Linked DNA regions of Homo sapiens. The protein of the gene in region 3 purifies or fractionates together with the protein of the main gene of each other region. This does not show direct contact. Each region holds a gene or a part of one and is shown on either strand. Other genes may lie near its edges. The genes, in order: ANXA8, HP, DDX19B, MVP, CRABP2, SERPINB2 and SERPINB1.

Region 1 (3,311 bases), on a different chromosome or scaffold from region 3:
GGGCATCACGAGGAGGTCTGACCATCCCCTGAGCAGAGCCCTCTCCACAGTGTTTGAAGAGTATGAGAAAATTGCCAACAAGAGCATTGAGGACAGCATCAAGAGTGAGACCCATGGCTCACTGGAGGAGGCCATGCTCACTGTGGGTAAGAGCTCAGACTTGCACGTTTTTCAGGCCACAGGGCTCACCGTGGGGCAGCACCAAAGAACAAAGGGCCTAGGGATGCGACCACAAGAGAAAGAATCCCTGTGTCACCTTCACGGGATGTCCCCCCGACTCACACTCTGCCTGTCTCCCTCACCCAGGGACTGCTCCACCTCTAGAGTCCCAGTGTGTGCTGCCAAAGATTGTTCTCTGTGCTGCCCACGTGGTGCCCAGTGCTGTGTGGGTGTGTCTGCATGAGTGTGTGTGTGCGTGAGAGTGTGTGTGCCTGAGGGTGTGTGTGCATGACTGTGGGTGGAATGTGAGTGTGTGTGTGTGAGACAGACAGTGTGTGTGTGTGCGCACACAAATGCATACGCCAGTGATTATGCCAGCCCCAACCCTGTGTGTACTCATGGCAGCCATGCAGGGAGCACTCTGGCTGTGGTTGTGAAGCCCTGGCCAGCACAAAGTCATCTTTCTGGACATGAACCAGGGGCCTGGCCCCTGCCTTCATTGCCAGTTGAAGAAACAGTGATGTGTGGCTTGAGTCCAAACTGAGTGACGGATGGTCTGATGCTGAGAAACACTGGGGATCTTCCCCACAGCAGGAAGTCAGGGCCACTCAGGAGGACCCACTCCAGAGCTCTCATGGGTTCCAGGGCTGAGATCACAATGGGAAGAGTCACTGCAGAGTAAAGAGCTGAGGCCCAGGGCAGAGGGACGTCTCTTCTCCCACTTACACACAGAGCCCAGGTCCGGACTCCTGGCCTGCAGCTCTCACCTCCACACCAGGCTGCCTCCGTGCAAAGCCAGCAGCCAGCAGGCTCCCTGCTGTTTCCTAGCCTCTCTGGGTGGACAGGGCCATCTGAGACACCCCAGCTGGCCTTGGATGCTGTGATACAATCCGGTCTATGTCAGGACATCTAATCACACCCCTGCTCCAATCTCAGCTTCCACCCCTGGATCTGGCCTGAACCCACCAAGAATGAAGTCTGCCAGCAGGGAATAGTGAAGCCATGCAGTGCTCCGTCATGCTGGGCCTTCCTATTCACTTCACCTTGAAGCCTCGCATCAGTCTCACTTCCCAGATGAGTCAGGGAGGTTGAGTAATGAAGCCATACTGCACCATCAAGGCAGGAAGTGAACACATGCCTACCTCACTCAAAGCCCATGCTCCTTCTGCAGCCCTAAGTGAAAATGCCAACCTTCCCCACCCAGATGCCAAGTCTCTGAGCAGTACCCATGGGAGCAAGCATGGGCCCAGTCTCTGGACCAGACGCCCCCAGGTGCCTTAGTCCTGTGGGGCCAAACTCCACTTGTCACATGGGAATTCAAAATGCAGGGTTCCTGCTGATAAGTGTGAGAGAGAGGGCACTCTGAGGCCAGCAGCCACCATCCCATGGTGCTTCTGTGGAGCTGAGAGGCTGGATTTTTGGTGGAGGTGTCTCTGGGTTGAGAGCCCAGGGCCTGTCCTGAGTCTGAGCTGCCCTTGGATGGGCTTGAGCTGGTGTCTTCAGACGAGCCCCACAGTCTGGTGCATTTCACATCTTACCCTTTTGCCTGCCTGCTTGGGCCTTTGGAGCTGTGCCCAGTGCCCCGGGCTACCTTCCCTGTCCCACGCCACCTGACACAAAGCCTCTCACATTGGGAAAGGCACGGAACAAAGAAATATGCCAAGCCTTGCACAACACTGACTCTTAAGACCTAAGGCAAGACATAAAGTTGTAGGCAGTGCCACCTACCAGCTCCAGACATTAACACAGCTTTCTTGTTTGCCAGTGAAATGCACCCAAAACCTCCACAGCTACTTTGCAGAGAGACTCTACTATGCCATGAAGGTAACTGTCCTGTCTTCTTCTTCCTGACGCTCACCCTACATAGCACCAAGTGCAAAGCCAAGGAGCTCAAAGCCACCACGATCCTCCACACGGGGGAGTTATCTTACCCAAACCTGTCGTGGATCAGAAAGGTTTTAGTTCTCGGAGGTGAAATTGAGTCTGGGAAAGGGACGCTGCATCTCCAGAGGTGAATAATTCCCTGAAACTAAAACCATTGCCCGTTTTCTCTGATTGATGGTTGCTGATATCCCCTGAAGTTAGTTCCACACCCGAAACCCAAGCCCTCTGGCCACTTCTGCCCAGGAAATGAGAGAGGGCATGCGATTCCCTTGGCCATGTGGCCCCAGCTGACATGAGACTGGTCAGGGATGAAGGTGAGCAGGAAGGCCCTGCCTGTGAAATTCCTGGCTGAGCTGATTGCTGCCATTGCTCTAGTAGGAAGTCTTGTTCCTGGAGCAGTGAGTATTTTGTGTCTAGAATCTGATGTGGCAAACCAAACATACTGCAGTTTGGAGCACTTGGCATCATAAAGGAAGAGTTCTGGGCAGTGGGTGAGAAGGAATTAAGGGAGTGGACACCCTAAGCCACCAAAGCTTCCCTCCTAATGCTTCCCTGGCTGAAGCACAGGCTCCTTCCCACATCTCCCTCCCTCTAAAAGCCCCAGAACCCAACCACACAGATCCGTCCATCACTCAGAGATGGACAGGAAAGGTGAGGCAGGATTGTTGATGGCTGCTGTCTTGCCCAGGGAGCAGGGACGCGTGATGGGACCCTGATAAGAAACATCGTTTCAAGGAGCGAGATTGACTTAAATCTTATCAAATGTCACTTCAAGAAGATGTACGGCAAGACCCTCAGCAGCATGATCATGGTAAGCAGGCATTCCCAATGCTGAGGCCAGCCTGAAACCCAGACATTCAGGGAAACCTGGAGGCTGTGGCCAACACTACGTGAGCCCCTCCCTTCCCAGTGGGCACCATGTGCTTGCATTCATGACCATGTGGTGTGTGCAGGGAACAGCAGAGGTCAGTGTGGCTGGATCCCAAGGGGAATGGGGGGCAGAGGGGAGATGCAGAGACCAGGGCACAGAGGCTCCCCTGTGTCCCACTCAGAAAGTTGGTTTCACATTTAAGTTATGGTTGCTCCTTGGAAAAGACACCAAATCCTTGCAGAAGAAGCCACCTCTGAAAAGTCAATGAGATGAACTAGTCCGGTAGGAATCGGGCCCACCGCTCAAATCCAGATTTAAGTAGTCCTGGCGGCCAACTTCTAAGGAGATAAGTCAGATGAGCGCCAATAGACTATCTAACCAGATTCCAATTAGCAAA
Region 2 (4,051 bases), 1.8 Mb from region 3:
GCGTCCAGCGGGGAACGTCCTAGAGGCACAGCCTTCCAGTGCGGCTTCCTCTGAGCACACAAGAGCCAGGAGGAGGGATGTGGGAGAACCGCAGCTGGCCAGGGAGAGACTTAAGCAGTTAGGTGATGACTCCCTAAGGGTCACCAAGGGTCTTGTTCATTGGGGCCTGAAGGGCACTGGCTGAATCCACTGTCGGCACTGCCCACAGATCAGGAGAGCCTGTGCATACAGAGAGCCTGCTAGAAAGCCCTGGGTCTAAGGAGAAGCAAGCTCCAGGGAGAACAAGTCAAGGAATGACATAAAATCTTAATCCATGGAAGCCTAGCAGGAGGCTGGACATGGGCTGGAACTCCTGCTTCTCGTTATTAGGAGGAGCTGTTGCTCTCTCCTTTCATTCTCAGAACCAGAGGCAAAGACCCAGCCTCTTCTGCTCTTACTGGTGTGGAAATGCCAACCTGCCTCGTATTAACTGCACCATCTACAAAATCTGAGCTCCAGCCAGTGCTGCTCTAGATTCATCTTTCTTTAGAGAGAATGAATTATTGTAGCCCCTAGCCCTTTCAATGAATTTCAGGGAATTGTGGAAATTCCTTTATTGGGATAATTGTTTAAAAATAATACAGTTCGCGAGCTTCTATTCGGGGTGGAAGGAGATTGATGTGCAGAGCAGCTCCCGCTCATCTGACTTTTCACGGTTCACTGGGAACAATTTCCAAATAGCAAACTCTCTGGCTTCTCTCTCTTTGCAGATGACGGCTGCCCGAAGCCCCCCGAGATTGCACATGGCTATGTGGAGCACTCGGTTCGCTACCAGTGTAAGAACTACTACAAACTGCGCACAGAAGGAGATGGTAAGATGTGGACAACTGTCTCCATGCCCTACATACAACCCCCTTCTCTGACATTTCCATGATGGGTGGTGCTGAGGTGATTCGCCAGAAAGTTCGTTGCTCTCCTTGGAGCCAGGAGATTTAGATTCTAATAAGCGTTTTGTCGCCAGTAGCCATGGCCCTTTGGGCAGACTAACTTTTGTCAGCCTCAAGTTTTCTGTTTTGTTAAGGGGAGGCGATGCCATGCAGCCTACCTCATGTAAATCTCAGAGTCACATTTACATCTCCAGCAGATGTGGGAAAAGAAGGAATGCTGATGATGATGTCACCCTCACCTAGTGAGTCTTGCTGTCCTGGCACTGCTCTAAGGGCTTTATACTTATTTGCTCACTTAGTCCTCACAGTATCCCTCTGAACAGAGTTTATTGTTTTCACTTTGCTGATAAGGAAACTGAGGCACAGACAGGTTGAGTATCTTGCCCAAATTCAGGCAGCCTGTAAGAGGCAGAGTCAGGATTTGAACCCTGAGCCCTCCCTGTACTGCTTGGCTGTGACCGCCATGACCACAGTGTGTTCTGCTGGGCTTAACTGGCATCCAGGCACTTGGCTTCCAGCACAGCACTCTTTCCCTTCCTCCTTCTCATATACTCTCTCCTTTTCCCCTTCCTTTTTGTCCCCTTTTCCTCTTCCTTTTAGTTCTTCTCTTTAAATGCCTTCTCACTCTGCACGGGGTCTAGACTTGACTTCTCCTTTGGCTCACTTCTTGCCTTTTGTTTCAGGAGTGTACACCTTAAACAATGAGAAGCAGTGGATAAATAAGGCTGTTGGAGATAAACTTCCTGAATGTGAAGCAGGTGGGTGCTGAGCACTTAAGAGAGCAGGCAGGCGTCCAGCGGGGAACGTCCTAGAGGCACAGCCTTCCAGTGCGGCTTCCTCTGAGCACACAAGAGCCAGGAGGAGGGATGTGGGAGAACCGCAGCTGGCCAGGGAGAGACTTAAGCAGTTAGGTGATGACTCCCTAAGGGTCACCAAGGGTCTTGTTCATTAGGGCCTGAAGGGCACTGGCTGAATCCATTGTCTACATCGCCCACAGATTAGGAGAGCCTGTGCATACAGAGAGCCTGCTAGAGAGCCCTGGGTCTAAGGAGAAGCAAGCTCCAGGGAGAACAAGTCAAGGAATGACATAAAATCTTAATCCATGGAAGCCTAGCAGGAGGCTGGACATGGGCTGGAACTCCTGCTTCTCGTTATTAGGAGGAGCTGTTGCTCTCTCCTTTCATTCTCAGAACAAGAGGCAAAGGCCCAGCCTCTTCTGCTCTTACTGGTGTGGAAATGCCAACCTGCCTCGTATTAACTGCACCATCTACAAAATCTGAGCTCCAGCCAGTGCTGCTCTAGATTCATCTTTCTTTAGAGAGAATGAATTATTGTAGCCCCTAGCCCTTTCAATGAATTTCAGGGAATTGTGGAAATTCCTTTATTGGGATAATTGTTTAAATATAATACAGTTCACCAGCCAGGGCTCAAAAATCTCAGTATTTCCCACTTCCTTTGTTAGAAAAGTGGGAAATAGAGCTTTTTGTAATGTAAACAATTTAAAAAACAGAATTATTTTAAAACTGCAACTATTGGAAATGAGATCAGCAGGTGGTAAGGGCAAAGCATTTAAATCTTTCTACTTTACGCAGCAGTGACAGCCGCCCATGCTTTCACCCCTTTCTCAGATGGAAAGGCTCTTGCACATTTCCACTCACGAGTGTCTTGCTCTCCTTGACAGTATGTGGGAAGCCCAAGAATCCGGCAAACCCAGTGCAGCGGATCCTGGGTGGACACCTGGATGCCAAAGGCAGCTTTCCCTGGCAGGCTAAGATGGTTTCCCACCATAATCTCACCACAGGTGCCACGCTGATCAATGAACAATGGCTGCTGACCACGGCTAAAAATCTCTTCCTGAACCATTCAGAAAATGCAACAGCGAAAGACATTGCCCCTACTTTAACACTCTATGTGGGGAAAAAGCAGCTTGTAGAGATTGAGAAGGTTGTTCTACACCCTAACTACTCCCAGGTAGATATTGGGCTCATCAAACTCAAACAGAAGGTGTCTGTTAATGAGAGAGTGATGCCCATCTGCCTACCTTCAAAGGATTATGCAGAAGTAGGGCGTGTGGGTTATGTTTCTGGCTGGGGGCGAAATGCCAATTTTAAATTTACTGACCATCTGAAGTATGTCATGCTGCCTGTGGCTGACCAAGACCAATGCATAAGGCATTATGAAGGCAGCACAGTCCCCGAAAAGAAGACACCGAAGAGCCCTGTAGGGGTGCAGCCCATACTGAATGAACACACCTTCTGTGCTGGCATGTCTAAGTACCAAGAAGACACCTGCTATGGCGATGCGGGCAGTGCCTTTGCCGTTCACGACCTGGAGGAGGACACCTGGTATGCGACTGGGATCTTAAGCTTTGATAAGAGCTGTGCTGTGGCTGAGTATGGTGTGTATGTGAAGGTGACTTCCATCCAGGACTGGGTTCAGAAGACCATAGCTGAGAACTAATGCAAGGCTGGCCGGAAGCCCTTGCCTGAAAGCAAGATTTCAGCCTGGAAGAGGGCAAAGTGGACGGGAGTGGACAGGAGTGGATGCGATAAGATGTGGTTTGAAGCTGATGGGTGCCAGCCCTGCATTGCTGAGTCAATCAATAAAGAGCTTTCTTTTGACCCATTTCTGTGTTGTGTTCAGTCTTGAGTCTTTTTTATTTGCTCCTTTATGGTCCAGGGTAGTCAGAAGGTATAGAGTCTACTGGGAGTATGGCAGAAAACACCCTAAACCCACTGGAAATCCCGAAGGTGATACAAACTCTTCCACCTTAGGGAATCATGCTCACTGATTGAGTGCCTATTGAATGCTAGGTCCCAGAAAGTTAACTGTTGTCCTTGTTTTACAGACAAGGAAACAGAGACTCAGAGATGGTAAGTGAGTTGCTTAAGGTTACATAGCTATGAAACAGGGAAGCAGAACTTTGAACCCAGGTCTGTTTGATACAAACTCAGAGGTCCTTTCACTGCATGCTGTTGCCTCCTCAAAGTGAATTAGGAGAAAAGGCATGGGCCTGGTTGAGGAAGAGGCTAGCTCAAAATGGGATGGGGAAAAAGTGTTTTAACACAGACAGTACTTCAGAGTTTGGGATCTAACCTACCAGCACTCCAGAAAACAAAAGACAA
Region 3 (3,500 bases):
GAAGTTTCTGGTCCCTTTCTGCTTTGGTGTTGGGAAAGAGGAAAAAGAAAGGGAACACATTAAAGAGATTAGAAAAAAGCAACTTAACAAAAAGGAAACCATTCAACTGGAGAAAGCCGACTGAAAAACAAACAAAAAAAAAAAGAAATCATTATAAAGCAGTAAAAATCCTTCACTAATTCTGAAGGATAAAGAATACACTAATGGGGGAGGGCAGTGGGGGACAGCATTAGGAAAAAGAGCTAATACATGTGGGGCTTAATACTTAGGTGATGGGTTGATAGGTGCAGCAAACCACCATGGTACATGTTTACCTATGTAACAAACATGCACATCCTGCACATGCACCCTAGAACTTTAAAAAAAAAAAAACAGCTGGGCACAGTGGCTCACACCTGTAATCCCAGCACTTTGGGAGGCTGAAATGGGAGGCTCCCTTGAGGCCAGGAGTTTGAGACAAGCCTGGGCAACATAGTGAGACTCCACCTCTATAAAGATTAAAAATAAAAATATTGACAGGGCATGGTGGCTTGTGACTTGAATCCCAGCACTTTTGGAGGCCGAGGAGGGAGGATCCTTGGAACTCATGGAGTTCGAGACAAGCCTGGGTAACATAGTGAGACCCCATCTCCTAAAAAATAAATAAATAGGCTGGGCATGGTGGCTCATTCCTGTAATCCCAGAGCTTTGGGAGGCTGAGGCAGGCTGATCACCTGAGGTCAGGAGTTCGAGACCAGCCTGACCAACATGGTAAAACCCTGTCTCTACTAAAAAAATATAAAAAAAATTAGCCAGGTGTGGTGGCGCAGGAGGCTGAGGCAGGAGAATCACTTGAACCTGGGAGTTGGAGGTTGCAGTGAGCCAAGATCACACCATTGCACTCCAGCTTGGGCAACAGAGTGAGACTCTGTCTTAAAAATAAATAAATAAATAGACCGGGTGTGGTGGCTCACGCCTGTAATCCCAGCACTTTGGGAGGCCGAGGCAGGTGGATCACCTGAGGTCAGGAGTTCGAGACCAGACTGGCCAACATGGTGAAAACCTGTCTCTACTAAAAATATAAAAACTAGCTGGGCATGGTGGTGGGTGCCTGTAATCCCAGCTACTCAGGAGGCTGAGGCAGGAGAATTACTTGAACCCAGGAGACAGAGGTTGCAGTGAGCCGACATGGTGCCACTGCACTCCAGCCTTGGCAGCAGAGTGAGACTCCGTCTCAAAATAAATAAATAAATAAAAATAAATACATAAATAAATAATAAATTTAAATAAATTTTAAAATAAAATAAATAAATATATTAGCTGGGCATGGTGGTATGTGCCCATAGTCCCAGCTACCAGGGAGGCTGAGGTGGGAGGATTGCTTGAGCCCAGGAGTTCCAGGTTACAGTGTGCTATGATCTTGCCACTGCATTCCAGCCTGGGTGACAGAATGAGACCCCATCTCTATTAAAAAAAATACACACATATATACACACACACACATATATACATACACACACACACACACACATATATATACATATGGCCAGATGTGATGGCTCACGCCTGTAATCCTAGTACTTTGGGAGGCCGAGATGGATGGATTGCCTGAGCTCAGGAGTTCGAGAGCACTGTGGGCAACATGATGAAACCCCATCTCTACTGAAATATGAAAAATTGGCTGGGCATGGTGGCACGTGCTTGTAATCCCACCTACTTAGGAAGCTGAGGCATGAGAATCGCTTAAACCCGGGAGGCAGAGGTTGCAGTGAGCCGAGATGGTGCCACTGCACTCCAGCCTGGGAGACAGTGCGAGACTCTTGTCTCCAAAAAATAAAAAATAAAAAAAGACATATTATTTCATAGACAATATTAATCTTAAAGATTAATGATGCAGCTGCTTTGGAAAACATCCTGGCACTTTCTCAAAAGTTAAATACAGAATTACTATATAATCCAGCAGTCCCACTTCTAGATATATACCCGAGTATTGAAACTATATGTCCACACAAAAACTTGTACATTAATCAAAAGCAGTATTATTCATAGTAGCTAAAAAGTAGAAATAATCCAAATGTCCAGAAATTGATAAGTGGATAAATAAAATGTGGTATATCCACACAATGGAATATTATTTGGCAACAATAAGGAATAAAGTACTGATACATGCTACAACTAATGAACCTTAGTTCATTATACTAAATAAAAGGAGCCAGTCACAAAGGATCACATACCGTATGTTCCCATTTATATGAAATGTTTAAAAGAGGCAAATCTAAAGAGACAGAAAGTAGATTAGTGATTGCCTAGAGCTGGGGAGTTTGTAGGGAAACAGGGAGTAACTGCTAATGTGTACAGAGTTTCCTTTTGGGGTGATGAAAATGTTCTAAAATTGACTGTGATATAAGCTACACACTTCTGAATACACCAACCATCAGTGAACTGTACACTTTAATCTCACCATAATGTCATAATAATAGGGTCTCAAGATTCTGTTTCATAAAATGCAGGAATTTGTTGTTGTAAGGTTAATAAAATGGCTAGTTTGGGCCTGCTAAAAACAGCAAGAGTTAATCATTTCATACCTGAGTTTTTATTATCACTGGATTCATTATTATGAGTTTCTGTTCTATCCAAAAGATAACTCTATGATGCAAACTCAAGCCAAAAAGAAAATGTCAAAGCTACCTACTCCTAACAAACCCTCTTAGGCACATTAATAGGTTAAAACAATGACAATTTAACCTGACCTGAATGGCCGGGTGCAGTGGCTCATGCCTATAATCCCAGCACTTTGGAAGGCCAAGGCAGGTGATAGCTTGAGCTCAGGAACTTGAGACTGCCCTGAGCAACATGGTGAAACCCTATGTCTACAAAACATACAAAAATTTGCCAGGTGTGGTGGTGCACACCTGTAGTCCCAGCTACTTGCAAGGCTGAGGTGGGAGGACTGCATGAGCCTGGGAGGTCAAGGGTGCAGTGAGCCATGTACACACCACTGCATTCCAGCCTGGGTGACAAAGTAAGACTCTATTTCAAAAACAACAACAACAACAAACAACAACAACAACAACAACAAAACTGACCTAACAAGAAGTTAGTTAAAATAGTCAAAACTCTCAGAACTAAAAAATAAAAAAAACAGGCCGGGTGCTGTGGGTCATGCCTGTAATCCCAGCACTTTGGGAGGCCGAGGCGGGCGGATCACGAGGTCAGAAGATCGAGACCATCCTGGCTAACACGGTGAAACCTCATCTCTACCAAAAAAATACAAAAAAATTAGCTGGGCATGGTGGTGGGCGCCTGTAGTCCCAGCTACTCGGGAAGCTGAGGCAGGAGAATGGCGTGAACCCAGGAGGTGGAGCTTGCAGTGAGCCGAGATTGCGCCACTGCACTCCAGCCTGGGCGACAGAGTGAGACTCTGTCTCAAAAAATAAATACATAAAAATTTAAAAAATAATAATTAAAAAAACAAAAAACCTCTCAGAACTACTTGAAACACATATTTATCTCTACGTTGA
Region 4 (3,500 bases), about 40 Mb from region 3:
TTTTATATTGTATTTTTACCTTACCTTTTCTATGGCTAGATACACAAGTACTTGCCATTGTGTTCAGCTGCCTGCAGTATTCAGGACAGTCACATGCTGCACAGGTTGGCAGCCTAGGGGCAGGCTACGCCATCTAGACTAGGTGCCATCTAGGTTTGCATAAGTGCACTCTTTTGCACAAAGACAAAATCATCTAAGGACTATTTCTCAGAATGTATCCCCATCATTAAGTGGCGCATGACTGTATCAGAGTTTCAGAGTCTCAGGCAGCGGGTAGCCAGGAGGCCTTCCCAGAAGGGGAATTAACTTCAGGTCTGAGGGGTAAGTCAGAGGCTGCCAGGAATCAAATGGGCCAGTGTCTCAGGTGTGTAAGAACTAAGCATGCAAAGGCACAGAAGGTGTTCCTAGAACGTGCGTCTGGAGGAGAGAAGGCAGAGGGCCTCATGCCACTAGAGGACATACATCTCCCAGGGCAGTCCTCTGTGGGGGTGTAGGGACCTCACCTTGACCACGCGCTTCTGCCCCAGCTGATTCTTGCCATCCGGTCCGACAGGGTCGAGAATCACGCAGTAGTTGTGGGGGCCCAGGGTGGTGATGGGCACAACCCCCAGCACCTCCTCGTGGACATCTGGCACGTGGGCCTCTGTGTCCTGCACTGTTACCAGCCACTCCTCCCCAGTGCGGCGGGACACTCCCCTGAAGTCCCGGAAGTTCCGCCGAGCCCGGAGGTGCAGGGCTGTCTGCAGAGCAACATGTTGGGTATTTGAGTGACCTGCCTCCAACTTCAGGGGATCTGCGAGCCCCATTGGCCACCAAATGCTCCCAATGCTCCCAGATCTCAGAGACAATTTCTACCAATCCAGGGATTGTTTTTTTTTTTTTTTAAATCGGAGTCTCTCTCTTGTTGCCCAGGCTAGAGTGCAAAGGTGCGATCTCAGCTCACTGCAACTTCCGCCTCCTAGGTTCAAGCGATTCTCCTGCCTCAGCCTCCTGAGTACAGCTGGGATTACAGGTGGGTGACACCATGCCCAGCTAATTTTTGTATTTTTAGTAGAGATGGGGTTTCGCCATGTTGGCCAGGTTTGTCTTGAACTCCTGACCTCAGGTGATCCTCCCACCTCAGCCTCCCAAAATGCTAGGATTACAGGCATGAGCCACTGCACCCGACCGGCTTTGTTTTTTTTTTTTTTTTTTGAGACAGGGTTTCGCTCTGTTGCCCAGGCTGGAGCACAGTGGCATGATCATGGCTCACTGTAACCTCTGCCTCTGGGGTTCAAGCGATTCTCCTGCCTCAGCGCCTCTGGAGTAACTGGAATTACAGGCATGCTCCACTACACCCAGCTAATTTTTAAATTTTTTGTAGCGATGAGTTCTCACTGTGTTGCCCAGGCTGGTCTCAGACTCCTGGCCTCAAGTGATCCTCCTGCCTCAGCCTTCCAAATTGCTGAGATTACAGATGTGAGTCATTGCGCCCAGCCCCAGAAAGACTATTTAACCCTTCAGATGATCCAGAATACTCAGGCAATCTGATCTCTGAATTTTTTTAAGTGACCCTAAAATTATTGCTTCTCTTTTACTCTCATGCCATTCTACCACCATTCTCTGCCACTCGGAGGGTTCCCTAGCCCCAGGTCCCTTAAACCACAGCCCCCAGAGCACCAACCTTTTCCGTAAGGATGACGGCGTCCACCAAATCCAGAACCTCCTCAAACACCGCTGGGAGGTACGCCCCTACTGTGGTGACCAGCCATTCTTCCCCTGGGCCAAGAGTGGAGGGTAAGGGACAAGGGCCCCCCAGCCTGCTCCCCACCTACCCCTCCCCCACAGCTTAGACACAGGGGATTGACAGATTTCATAGGCAAAAAGATAGCACTGACCCCAGGCTCAAGTTCCTGACTGCGGTCCTCTTATTCATTCTTTTGAGGCCAAACCCCCACCCCAGTTGAATTTTAAAAGTTTTTTTTTTTTTTTTTTTTTTTTTGAGACGGAGTCTCCCTCTGTTGCCCAGGCTGTGATCTCAGCTCACTGCAACCTCAGCCTCCTGGATTCAAGTGATTCTCATGCCTCAGCCTCCTGAGTAGCTGGGATTACAGGCACGTGCCACCACGCCCGGCTAATATTTGTATTTTTTGTAGAGATGGTGTTTCACCATGTTGCCCAAGCTAGTCTGGAACTCCTGGCCTCAAGTGATCCGCCCACCTTGGCCTCCTAAGATGCCCAAGTTGCTGCTATGCCAACAGCCTGTTCTGCCTTCTCTAAGCTCCAAAGACCAACTTTTGTCCTTCTGCTAAAACAGGCAGCAGAACTGCCTCTGTTAGAGTTGTGGATGTCCTTTGGTTTACTGGAGAAGCCAGAGTGCCTGGATGCAGGTCCCAGCCTCGCCCTGCCTGGCCACACCCCAGGGCAAGCAACCTGCATTCTGCATCCCAGTTTTGATATATAGAAAGTGGGAATGGCCGGGTGCGGTGGTTCACGCCTGTAATCCCAGCACTTTGGGAGGCCGAACCTGGTGGATCACGAGGTCAGGAGATCAAGACCACCCTGGCTAACATGGTGAAACCCTGTCTCTACTAAAAAAAAAAAAAAAAAAAATACAAAAAAAAAAAAAATTAGCTGGGCATGGTGGTGGGCGCCTGTAGTCCCAGCTACTCAGGAGGCTGAGGCAGGAGAATGGTGTGAACCCAGGAGGCGGAGCTTGCAGTGAGCCGAGATCGCGCCACTGCACTCCAACCTGGGCAACAGCAAGAAAGCAAGACTCCGTCTCAAAAAAAAAAAAAAAGTGGGAATGGTAGCACCTCGGGGTAGTACCTCTGTGGCCCAGGATGGAGTGCAGTGGTGCAGTCACAGCTCACTGCAGCCTCCACATCCTGGGCTCAAGAAATTCTCCCCCTTCAGCCTTCTGAGTAGCTGGGACCACAGGTGTGTGTCCAAGGCCAGGCTAATTTTTAAATTCTCTGTAGAGATGGGGTCTCACTGTGTTGCTCAGGCTGGTCTTAAGCTCCTGGGCTCAGACGATTCACCCACCTTGGCAAAGTGCTGGGATGACAGGTGTGAGCCACTGTACCTATTGGCCTACATTTGTCAATTGTATTTGAACATCTTCTTTGTTGATCCAGAATCAGGTAAGTCATGGCCACTGCCCACAGCTCATGGTGAAGGTGAGGGAAGGAAAAGCCACATCCGCATGGTCATGGTCACATTTTCCAGCCCAAGTGGAAACAGCATGAAGCGGGGGTGGGGAAGGAAGAGCAGTGGGTGGCCCTCAACAGCTTTCAAAAGATACCAGGAAAGCGCCTCTCTGGGGCTACAGGAGGCTTTCCTCAACCTTCCCCTGCTTCCCCTGCAGTGGGGACCCCTCCTGCCCACCCACCATCATCGCCCCTTGGTGACCCCACCTGTCACCCTCTCCTTGCCGTCCCGGTCCCAGCACTCCTTGCGGGCCCTGAGCCGCAGAGCCTGGTTCTGCCTGATGATGGTGGCCTGAATGATCTCCACGACCT
Region 5 (3,478 bases), on a different chromosome or scaffold from region 3:
TCAGGCTGGTCTCAAACTCCCAACCTCAGATGATCCACCCACCTCGGCCTCCTAAAGTGCTGGGATTACAGGCATGGGCCACTGCGCCAGGTCGTTTTTGTTTGTTTGTTTGTTTTTTGTTTTTTTTGAGATGGAGTCTCGCCTTGTCGCCCAGGCTGGAATGCAGTGGTGTGATCTTGGCTCACTGCAACCTCCGCCTCCCGGATTCAAGTGATTCTCCTACCCCAGCCTCAGCGTCCCAAGTAGCTGGGATTACAGGTGCGCGCCACTATGCCCAGCTAATTTTTGTATTTTTAGTAGAGATGGGGTTTCACTATGCTGGTCAGGCTGGTCTTGAACTCTTGACCTCGTGATCCGCCCGCCTCGGCCTCCCAAAGTGCTGGGATTACAGGCGTGAGCCACTGCGCCCAGACTTTTGTTTTGTTTTGTTTTTGAGACAGGGTCTCTCTCTGTCACCCAGGCTGGAGTGCAGTGGTATGATCTCGGTTCATTACAACCTCCGCCTCCCGGGTTCAAGCAATTCAGCAATTCTCCTGCCTCAGCCTCCTGAGTAGCTGGGATTACAGGTGTGAGCAACTGCGTCCAGCCCTGGCTTTTTTTTTTTTTTGGTAGAGTCGGGGTTTCAGCATGTTGCCCAGGCTGGTATCGAACTCCTGAGCTCAAACAATCCACCTGCCTTGGCCTTGTAAAGTGCTGGGATTATAGGTGTGAGCCACTATACCCAACCTTGATTGGCTTTTGAAGAAGCTGTTATTTCCATTTTACAATTGAGGAATCTAAGGCTCAGGGTGGTTAAGCCATTTGCTCAGGGTCACCCAGCCTGTAAGGGGGCTGAGCCAGGAGGAAATCACAGCCTCCTGGACCTTACTCCAGAGCCTCTGTCTTCCCAGGCTGCTGACCATTCTGTAGAGGGAAGCAGCTGCCCCTGCTCTCTTTCATTGCTGTGGGGCAGAAATTGGGCAAATGAAGACCTATCTAGCACTAGATACGGTGGGTAGATAGGGCAAAAAGGGAAATGGCTCCTACTTCCCAGGACATGAGTGATGGGGTCTGGCCTGTGCTTGGCCAGGGGTACAGTCCCAGTGACTCTGATGAGCTGTCAACAGGGTAGACAAAAGGCCAAAAGTGAAGTAAACAGAGACAACCGGAGCCAGTAGCAGGATGTTTGTTGGGTAGGGGGCTGGGGAGAAGCTGCCCCTGGGCATTCTGGGACTGAAGAGCTGAGACGTGGGGAGCCTGATCCAGACCTGCTGACTCAACAAGGTGGGGCCACAGCTAGGAACAGGACTCCCAGGGGCAGGCCACTGCCTCTCTCCCTCTCCTCCCTAAACCCCCTCATCTTTCAGGGCTGCACCGCCTACCGTCTCCTTCAAGGCACTTTCTTAGACACCCAGGCACCAGGCAGATGCACCCCCCAACACACCCACCCCAAGCAAGTCACAAATCAGCCTGCTCCAACTGTCTTATGGGGAGGGTGTGAGAGAGGTGCCCAAAGGCCCCTAAAAGGTGAGCCTCTCCTCTCTCCCCACAGGGGTGAATGTGATGCTGAGGAAGATTGCTGTGGCTGCAGCGTCCAAGCCAGCAGTGGAGATCAAACAGGAGGGAGACACTTTCTACATCAAAACCTCCACCACCGTGCGCACCACAGAGATTAACTTCAAGGTTGGGGAGGAGTTTGAGGAGCAGACTGTGGATGGGAGGCCCTGTAAGGTGAGTGCCAGAAGGGGCTCCAGGGTCATGGCGTCATTGCCCTGCCTCTCAACCTGCCATTTTCCAGGCTAGCAGTTAACTCCTAGCTTCTCTCTGTCCCAGTAGGGAAAATCCCTAGGTGGTGGTGGGGGCTAGAAAGGGGCTCTCTCCCTTATCCCTCTCACTGCATTGCCCCTGCTATGGGCCCAGCTCACTTGGCCACCTGTCTCTTGCAGAGCCTGGTGAAATGGGAGAGTGAGAATAAAATGGTCTGTGAGCAGAAGCTCCTGAAGGGAGAGGGCCCCAAGACCTCGTGGACCAGAGAACTGACCAACGATGGGGAACTGATCCTGGTAAGTCCTGCCTCCTCCCCACTAATAGCAAACCCAGTGCTACCTTCCAAGATTCTCTGGGAGACCCCAGGGTGCAGGAGACTCAAGAACAACCATGGCTGGACTCCGCACCCTGCTGATGGGACTGCTTGAACAGAACTAAGGTGTCCCTATCCCATACAGTGCCCTGTGTGAATTAGAAATGGTGTTCCTTTTATGCAAGCAAAGGGCATGTACTGAGGGATCCCAGCAGTTCTTCAGGGAGATCTTCCTGGCTTGAGGAGGAGGACGGGCCCCAGGGGCTCTATTGCTATCCTCCCTCCATTGATGCCTGGGCATTCTGGGACCAGCTCCTGCCTGTTGGTCTTGAGCCAAGAAGCAGGTTTGGACCTGGAGGCCAAGCAGAGTACCTCCATTCAACCCTCCTCTCCAAAGCCACAGGACCCCAGGGGCCTCTCAGGCTAACAACTACTTCTGTCCTTCCAGACCATGACGGCGGATGACGTTGTGTGCACCAGGGTCTACGTCCGAGAGTGAGTGGCCACAGGTAGAACCGCGGCCGAAGCCCACCACTGGCCATGCTCACCGCCCTGCTTCACTGCCCCCTCCGTCCCACCCCCTCCTTCTAGGATAGCGCTCCCCTTACCCCAGTCACTTCTGGGGGTCACTGGGATGCCTCTTGCAGGGTCTTGCTTTCTTTGACCTCTTCTCTCCTCCCCTACACCAACAAAGAGGAATGGCTGCAAGAGCCCAGATCACCCATTCCGGGTTCACTCCCCGCCTCCCCAAGTCAGCAGTCCTAGCCCCAAACCAGCCCAGAGCAGGGTCTCTCTAAAGGGGACTTGAGGGCCTGAGCAGGAAAGACTGGCCCTCTAGCTTCTACCCTTTGTCCCTGTAGCCTATACAGTTTAGAATATTTATTTGTTAATTTTATTAAAATGCTTTAAAAAAATAAAACCTGTCTCTGGCTCATTGGGCAGGTAGATAAGTCACCTGAGTTCAACCTTGCCTCTGAAATGTAGTATGGGAAAGACTTGTGTTTCTGCAGCATGGAACTGAGTTATACAACAGGAGAGGACAGTCCTTCCAGTCACCGTTCTAACCACCACCCCTTCGTTTGCTGCTGAATCCACAAGCCTCACCTCCACATTCCCTTCTCCAAGGTCCTTCCTTGGTGTCCTGCTCTGGCTTCCAAGGTCACAAGGGCCTCCTCCTCCTGACCTCTCAGCTGGGGCACTGGGCTCTGAGGAGCTGACTCCCACCTTCTCCCATGTTTTCCATCATGGTGACAGTTTCCTCCTCCTCCTCCAGCTGTTGCTTCCCTCTCCTCCAGCTTCAGCCCATGGGTGACCCCAGGCCTGGCCTTGGCCTCCCACATGGTTCCAGATGAGCTCAACGGCACCCACAAGCTGGCCTTGCAGCTGCCTGGGCCTCTGGGTGAGAGGTCTCATCCTGCC
Region 6 (3,500 bases), on a different chromosome or scaffold from region 3:
AATTTCCTTGGAAGAGAGGAAAACCAGCCAAGCTGTCGTAGGAAATCTTCTTCTTTTACGTGAGGGTGGAGTTGCACCACTTCTTTTCAGAGAGTACTAGGCAGGACTTACGATGTATGACTCAAAGAGCAGAAAAAGACCTCACAAACCCTAACACCTCTCCTTCTAGCCCAGAAATTCACCAACTTGCTGGACAAGGCTGCCTTAATTAACTTCATTAGCAGAACCCCAACCATCAAGCCACTTACCAGATCAGCTTCTCCTCAGGGACCCCATAGGGAGGTGCTGCAGGACCAAGGGTTCCCAAGGAGGTGGGATGGGGTGGGTGGCTGGGAGGCAGGGCCAGCTTGCAGGTATTAAGACTGGCAGACCAAGGCGGGCAGGCAGCAGTGTTGTGGGAAGGGGATCTGAGGAAGCTTCAGAGGGGACAGTCCTTGCTGCCAGCTTCCCCGTGTCAGCCAAAACTGCCTACTTACTATACGAAGAGATTCACAGTGTCATCAGACCAACTTGTCCCTCACATGGACATAAATTTCTCTGTGTATGAATATGGTATGTGTAAATATTTTAGGTGAACCCTGTTAATATTGCATGACCTGTTTTATGCCTTAGCTGACTCTGGCTTGTAGTTTTTGACAGATTGAAAGTATTTTGTGTATAAGGCCACTGAAAAGAGAGAGACACACAAGGTTCTGAGTTAATCTTGTGACTTTCTTTAAAATACTGGCATTTTTTTTTCAAGACCATTTATTGGTTGGATATAATTTAGATAATTTGGGGAAGAGGTTTTAAATCATTTCATAATAACAATTTGTTTTCCAAAATGGCCAGGATATAAATTAATCTAAAACACCTCATGCTGTTTTCTATAAGGGAAATTTAGGTTGGCTGATACTTTTATATTACACAGAAAGAGTATTGAGTATCTATGGTTGTTCCCCATGTATAAGGGAAGGGAAAAGATCTAGGACCATTTTAGAGCCACCTGATAGCCATCTGTTTTAAAAGTTCAGTAAATCCGTGGGCAAGTGTAACCGTTTTCTCTAATTCTGATTGCAGGTGCTTCAGTTTAATGAAGTGGGAGCCAATGCAGTTACCCCCATGACTCCAGAGAACTTTACCAGCTGTGGGTTCATGCAGCAGATCCAGAAGGGTAGTTATCCTGATGCGATTTTGCAGGTATCTGACTTACTGGTCCAAATTTCTTTTGTGGTTTATTTTTGCAATCTTCCTGTCTTAAAGCCACAGTGTCAGACTGGGAAGGAAGCGAATATACCCTCCCCCATTCACAGAAAGAAAACTAAGACTCAGAGTCATTAAGAAAAACATGTCCTAAGATGATACCCATAACGAGAGACGAGCCAGGACAGAATCCAGACTTCATGAGTTTTAGGCCAAGCCTATTTACTTCTAAATTCTCTCATGCCTCTCTGTCATTGGTGAGGTATGTGTAATTTATCATAAATCCACAGTAGAGACTCCTAGAATACACGTGTATGGATAAGGATTTCCAGAGGAGAGAGGGTAGGGACTGACAATTGATTGAGAAATGGCAGAAGGCTGGGCCCAATGATTGCATGAGAAATCACTGACCTTCAGGTAACTTTCCTTCTATCTATCTAATCTATCATCTATCATTGATCTCTCTCATCTATCTTACCTATCATACATCTATCAATCCTATCTATCTATATATTTTATGAATCATCTATTTATCATCTATCTTCTCTGTCATCTGTCTATCTTATCTATTTATCAATCAGCTATCTCGGGGAGTAACACCTTTCCTCAGTACTCCATTTCCTTAAATGTCAGCTATCCAGTTAAATTATAAAAACTGAGTATAGACTGCTCCTGTTGGCAACCAACTTCCACAGTCATGCTTATGAGGTAGATTATGAAGAGGTATCTCCCAAAGCTCTCTTCCTGGGCACTCTGAAGCTCCTTCTACCCATTGCCCAGGGAATTATGGGCTAGAGGAGGTGGACAGGATCCTGATCATGTGGAGATTCCGCCAGGTGTTCTGTGGTACCTGGCAGTCCATCAGGAGGGCTCTGTCCCCTGCCCTAGGACAGGCTGCTGCTGTGACCAAGCCCTGTGTCTGACATGGTGCTTACAAACTTCAGTTTGAGAACTGAAATAACCATTCACTTTTGTGGTTTTCTAAAACCCATGTTTTCCACTGCATAGTTTGCCCCATAAAATAGGTATCTAGAGAAGCTATATGAACTTTGTAAGATCATTACTAAGGCAACATTTCCTCCCTGCCAGCTTTACTGAGGTATAATGGACAAATAAAAATTGTACATGTTCAAGATGTACAGTGTGATGACTTGCTATACCTATACATTGTGAAATGATTACAGTCAAATTAATGAGCACATCCATCACTACAATTACCCACCATTTGTATGTATGTGTGTATGTATAGTGAGGACACTTAAAAAATATATTCTTCACAAATTTCAAGTAAACAGTTTTATTAACTATAACTATTAATGAACACAATCTTATTAACTATAGTCATTATACTGTACATTAGATCCCCAGAACTTATCCATCTTATAAATACAACAAAAATTCCTTAGAGACTTTGAAGTTTAGGAAACTGAGAAGGGGCCTTTCTTCTAGGCTGTTGGTCACCTGGTTAAATCCAATCCATAGACAGAGCAAAATTGGAAAGAAATTAAAATTCACCTTATTAGTTTTAATGTACCACATCCTTATCGAAATGATTTTCTCAAAGATTCCTCTAATGTACCAAAAATAAAGTATGTATTAATATAGCATTTCATGATTGTATTCAAAAACTATTACCATGGCTTAAGAACTATCTTGTTTAGTAGTTCTGTGTTATATATAAAGAATTCCTTCTTTCTTTTCAAGGCACAAGCTGCAGATAAAATCCATTCATCCTTCCGCTCTCTCAGCTCTGCAATCAATGCATCCACAGGGAATTATTTACTGGAAAGTGTCAATAAGCTGTTTGGTGAGAAGTCTGCGAGCTTCCGGGAAGTAAGTGAAACCTGTAATTGAAATGGCTGGATCCCAAACAAGTAATGAAGTCACTTTCAAAGCAGTTCTCTACAATTCAACAGTTCATAAAAGCAGAGTTGGAATTCCACACCAGCTCCCTAGGGCTGGCCTTGCGTAACAGCTGCCCTTCCTGTACCCTCTGGGGCTTCCTCCTCTTCCCATTGCAAATGTCCCAATCTCAGAGTCATAAATCAGGAAAACAAATGCAACTGTTTTCCAGAGACACTATCCCCCAAGTCAAACCTCTTTCCTTTTATTCTGTCTCTATAATGCAAGGAGTACAAGAGGGTGGATAGAGTTGGGGAGTAAGCGTGGACAAAGGGGTCTGCACTCTTTCCCCCTTCAGCACCTGCCTTCCATAGCCAACCTCCACTCCCACCCTACCCCAGGTCTCCTAATTTCAATGGGAAGACCATAATTCACCATTATGCCATGGCTTGTTTGGTATGTATTTTATGTAGCCT
Region 7 (3,500 bases), on a different chromosome or scaffold from region 3:
GTGTAGCATATATCTTCATCACGTACTATAAAATTCTATTATTACACTGTTTGTTCTCATCACAATTCATATAGATAGTGAATTAAATTTTCAATGGGTACAAGACAGAAAAAGCCTCATGTGACATGTTAGGCCTATTTACTAGTATGATCTTTGCATGAGGTTTCCATTATATGTAGGGACTCTAGCCTGCTCTGTGCTCTCCGTCTCCTCCCTATCCACCTATTCATCATCCTTGCTATCAGGAAGGGGGTCTAATGTTAATCATTTGCATGTACAGACTTTTAATACATTGTATAACAATCAATGTGGCCTTTCTTTTGGTTGTATTTTTGCATTAGTTTTTTTTCTGATTGTAAAGTGAAAATCTCTAGCCTCTTAAAAGGAATTATCAGCACCATTAGAAGAAGTAGAGTGATGGTTCTATTCCAGTCCAATAGCTATAACAATAGTAATGATAATAGCTGACATTTATGTAGCACTATGGGCCAAGCACTTTATATACATCATTTCATTTAATGCTCTCAACAATCTATAAGGTAGATATAAGTAATGTCCACATCACATTTCAGATGAGGAACTAGCTCCAGTGCATAATCTGCCTTTAAAATTTTTACCTAGGAGCTAAAGTTATTAGATATTACTTCAGCTTCAGTGGGATTCAGACTAAATAGAAGAAATATTTTAAATTTCTTCTAGCACTACTCAACCTGGAAGTAATAGCAGCTGTCATGACCTATCACTGTAATCCATTGTGGTAGGGGTTTAGTAAACCCTGGATGAATGGATGGATGGATGAATGGGTAGATGGATGGGTGGATGGGTGGATGAGTAAATGGGTGGATGGATGATAGATAGGTGGATAGATTGTTGGATGGGTGGGTGGGTGGATAGGTGAATGGATGGATGGATGGGTGGATGGGTAGATGGATGATGAATAGGTGGATAGATGGTTGGATGGGTGGGTGGGTAGATAGGTGAATAAATGGATGGATGGATGGGTGGCTGTGTTGCTGGGTAGCTGGGTGGATGGATGGATGGATGGATGGATGGATGGATGGATGGATGAGTGGACAAATGGGTGGATGGATGGGTGGATGGGTGGGTGAGTGGATGATGGACCCAATGTACAAATCCCTTGAACCTTTGATGACTTGGAACACCACCTCTGCCCTATTTCACCAATTGCCATAATGAAATAAAATGCTCCAAATGGAATCTGTTTTGGCACAAAACATGAAGGAAACTAACTAGCAACTGATATTATGGGTCCATTGATTCAATAATACTTTATTGCCTTACTTATGTAAAATTGATATCACTTCCTCTTTCGCCTCATTTTTAATTGCAGATTGAGGAACAGTTGACTTTGGAAAAGTTGCATGAGTGGACTAAACCTGAGAATCTCGATTTCATTGAAGTTAATGTCAGCTTGCCCAGGTTCAAACTGGAAGAGAGTTACACTCTCAACTCCGACCTCGCCCGCCTAGGTGTGCAGGATCTCTTTAACAGTAGCAAGGCTGATCTGTCTGGCATGTCAGGAGCCAGAGATATTTTTATATCAAAAATTGTCCACAAGTCATTTGTGGAAGTGAATGAAGAGGGAACAGAGGCGGCAGCTGCCACAGCAGGCATCGCAACTTTCTGCATGTTGATGCCCGAAGAAAATTTCACTGCCGACCATCCATTCCTTTTCTTTATTCGGCATAATTCCTCAGGTAGCATCCTATTCTTGGGGAGATTTTCTTCCCCTTAGAAGAAAGAGACTGTAGCAATACAAAAATCAAGCTTAGTGCTTTATTACCTGAGTTTTTAATAGAGCCAATATGTCTTATATCTTTACCAATAAAACCACTGTTCAGAAACAAGTCTTTCATTTTCTTTGTAAGTTTGGCTCTGTTGGCTGTTTACACCCATGAATTTTGGCATGGGTATCTATTTTTCTTTTTTACATTGAAAAAAATCCAGTGGTTGCTTTTGAATGCATCAAGTAAAGAAGAAGAAAAGAATACATCCGATGCGTAGATTCTTGACCATGTAGTAATCTATAAAATTGCTATATCCTCCTGATAGCCATGGGAAAACATGATAAGATGGTCATTTATTTTGCAGTTAGAATTTTGGAAGCCACAAAATAGACAGACACCCTGACTGTTGAAGGGAGGTTTAAAAACAGATATTCAATTGAAATGTAAGAGAGCACCCCAATTGAGAGCCCAGGTTACGAAGACAAGCTTGCCTCGCCTGACTTTTCTGTCCCTTGTTCTGCAGGATTAGTATTCTGTTACAGACCTCTAGTTTTTAGACTCTTCAATTAAAGGGCCAATGGTTATAACCTGCATTCCCTTTTTTGTTCTTCTTTATGTATAATATATAGTTCATGTGGCGCTGCATGAAATCAAGAAGTGGGTGTCTTAGGATAAAAGATACCAAGAGTCTACAAAAATAACCATGTAGTAAGATAAACTGCTGAACAAAGGTTTTACTGTTAGCCACCTTCTCATGTGTTTTCTTTTCTCTTTTTCTTTTTCTTTCTTTCTTTCTTTTTTTTTTTTTTGAGACAGAGTCTTGCTCTGTTACCCAGGCTGGAGTGCAGTGGCACGATCTCAGCTCACCGCAACCTCTGCCTCCTGGGTTCAAGTGATTCTCTTGCTTCAGCCTCCTGAGTAGCTGGGATTATAGGCATGCACCACTAGGCCTGGCTAATTTTTGTATTTTTAGTAGAGATGGGGTTTTTCCATGTTGGCCAGGCTGGTCCCGAACTCCTGACCTCAGGTGATCCGCGCACCTCAGCCTCCCAAAGTGCTGGGATTACAGGCATGAGCTACCATGCCTGGCCTTCTCATGTGTTTTCTGATTAAGGCTCTTGACTTCCAAGGCTGTGTGGGGAGATGGGGTGGGGGCTCTTGGACTGATATAAAACTTTGTCAAATGTAGTTCTTTGAATGGAGCTTGAAACGCCGCATATTCTTGCTCCCACAAGGATAGTGGGCATCATGAATTAATAAAACGTCCTAGGATTCTGCAAGCTAGACTGGTCTCAGGCCTCTTCTTATTGCCCCCTATCCCTAGACAAGTTAAGACTGCAAGTGGGGATTATTGGCCTTACAACATTGTTGGTAGAGAGGAATTCCACATGTTAACAACAAAATTTTAGCAACTCTTTTGCCAACAAACTTTCTTTTCTCCCGCTTTCTTAAAATACTTACCATATTCCAGGTTTTCTCACTCTCAGGAAAAACTCTGCCTTCTGTAAGTCTTCTCTTTTGGTTCCTCATCCTAAAATCCACTCTGATTTGGAGTAAATCATGTTAATTGTGTAGAAACTGAATTGTAGGGGCCCAAGTGAGCCCGCTCAAATTATATATGAGGGAACAGGCCTATAGACTATAAGTAAATTGTTGAAGGTCAAAACAATTGGTGAGTTCCAGGGCAGAGACTAGAATCCAATGCGTATTTTATGTGGAGAGCATCTAATTTATGTAATGGTGAAATAGTTA

Evidence for each region.
Region 1: the proteins of DDX19B (region 3) and ANXA8 purify together in Homo sapiens (affinity purification with mass spectrometry; 2 studies listed by BioGRID and IntAct, with this or other methods). This does not show direct contact.
Region 2: the proteins of DDX19B (region 3) and HP purify together in Homo sapiens (affinity purification with mass spectrometry; 2 studies listed by BioGRID and IntAct, with this or other methods). This does not show direct contact.
Region 4: the proteins of DDX19B (region 3) and MVP purify together in Homo sapiens (affinity purification with mass spectrometry; 2 studies listed by BioGRID and IntAct, with this or other methods). This does not show direct contact.
Region 5: the proteins of DDX19B (region 3) and CRABP2 purify together in Homo sapiens (affinity purification with mass spectrometry; 2 studies listed by BioGRID and IntAct, with this or other methods). This does not show direct contact.
Region 6: the proteins of DDX19B (region 3) and SERPINB2 purify together in Homo sapiens (affinity purification with mass spectrometry; 2 studies listed by BioGRID and IntAct, with this or other methods). This does not show direct contact.
Region 7: the proteins of DDX19B (region 3) and SERPINB1 purify together in Homo sapiens (affinity purification with mass spectrometry; 2 studies listed by BioGRID and IntAct, with this or other methods). This does not show direct contact.

What each region holds. Positions count from the first base shown.
Region 1 is NC_000010.11:47,470,805-47,474,115, reverse strand, and holds part of ANXA8 (annexin A8), read left to right. Parts: intron 1-50; coding exon 51-146; intron 147-1,095; coding exon of another isoform or gene 1,096-1,154; exon of another isoform or gene 1,155-1,917; intron 1,918-1,924; coding exon 1,925-1,983; intron 1,984-2,731; coding exon 2,732-2,854; intron 2,855-3,311. UniProt on the Homo sapiens protein: This protein is an anticoagulant protein that acts as an indirect inhibitor of the thromboplastin-specific complex, which is involved in the blood coagulation cascade.
Region 2 is NC_000016.10:72,057,505-72,061,555, forward strand, and holds the end of HP (haptoglobin isoform 1 preproprotein), read left to right. Parts: intron 1-749; coding exon 750-851; intron 852-1,609; coding exon 1,610-1,684; intron 1,685-2,607; coding exon 2,608-3,386; 3' UTR 3,387-3,551; downstream 3,552-4,051. UniProt on the Homo sapiens protein: As a result of hemolysis, hemoglobin is found to accumulate in the kidney and is secreted in the urine. Haptoglobin captures, and combines with free plasma hemoglobin to allow hepatic recycling of heme iron and to prevent kidney damage.
Region 3 is NC_000016.10:70,305,686-70,309,185, reverse strand, and holds part of DDX19B (ATP-dependent RNA helicase DDX19B), read right to left. Parts: intron 1-3,500. UniProt on the Homo sapiens protein: ATP-dependent RNA helicase involved in mRNA export from the nucleus.
Region 4 is NC_000016.10:29,833,962-29,837,461, reverse strand, and holds part of MVP (major vault protein), read right to left. Parts: coding exon 3,396-3,500; intron 1,759-3,395; coding exon 1,664-1,758; intron 741-1,663; coding exon 504-740; intron 1-503. UniProt on the Homo sapiens protein: Required for normal vault structure. Vaults are multi-subunit structures that may act as scaffolds for proteins involved in signal transduction. Vaults may also play a role in nucleo-cytoplasmic transport.
Region 5 is NC_000001.11:156,699,106-156,702,583, reverse strand, and holds the end of CRABP2 (cellular retinoic acid-binding protein 2), read left to right. Parts: intron 1-1,531; coding exon 1,532-1,710; intron 1,711-1,925; coding exon 1,926-2,042; intron 2,043-2,507; coding exon 2,508-2,558; 3' UTR 2,559-2,978; downstream 2,979-3,478. UniProt on the Homo sapiens protein: Transports retinoic acid to the nucleus. Regulates the access of retinoic acid to the nuclear retinoic acid receptors.
Region 6 is NC_000018.10:63,894,205-63,897,704, forward strand, and holds part of SERPINB2 (plasminogen activator inhibitor 2), read left to right. Parts: intron 1-248; exon of another isoform or gene 249-332; intron 333-1,059; coding exon 1,060-1,179; intron 1,180-2,886; coding exon 2,887-3,015; intron 3,016-3,500. UniProt on the Homo sapiens protein: Inhibits urokinase-type plasminogen activator. The monocyte derived PAI-2 is distinct from the endothelial cell-derived PAI-1.
Region 7 is NC_000006.12:2,831,864-2,835,363, reverse strand, and holds the end of SERPINB1 (leukocyte elastase inhibitor), read left to right. Parts: intron 1-1,351; coding exon 1,352-1,756; 3' UTR 1,757-3,032; downstream 3,033-3,500.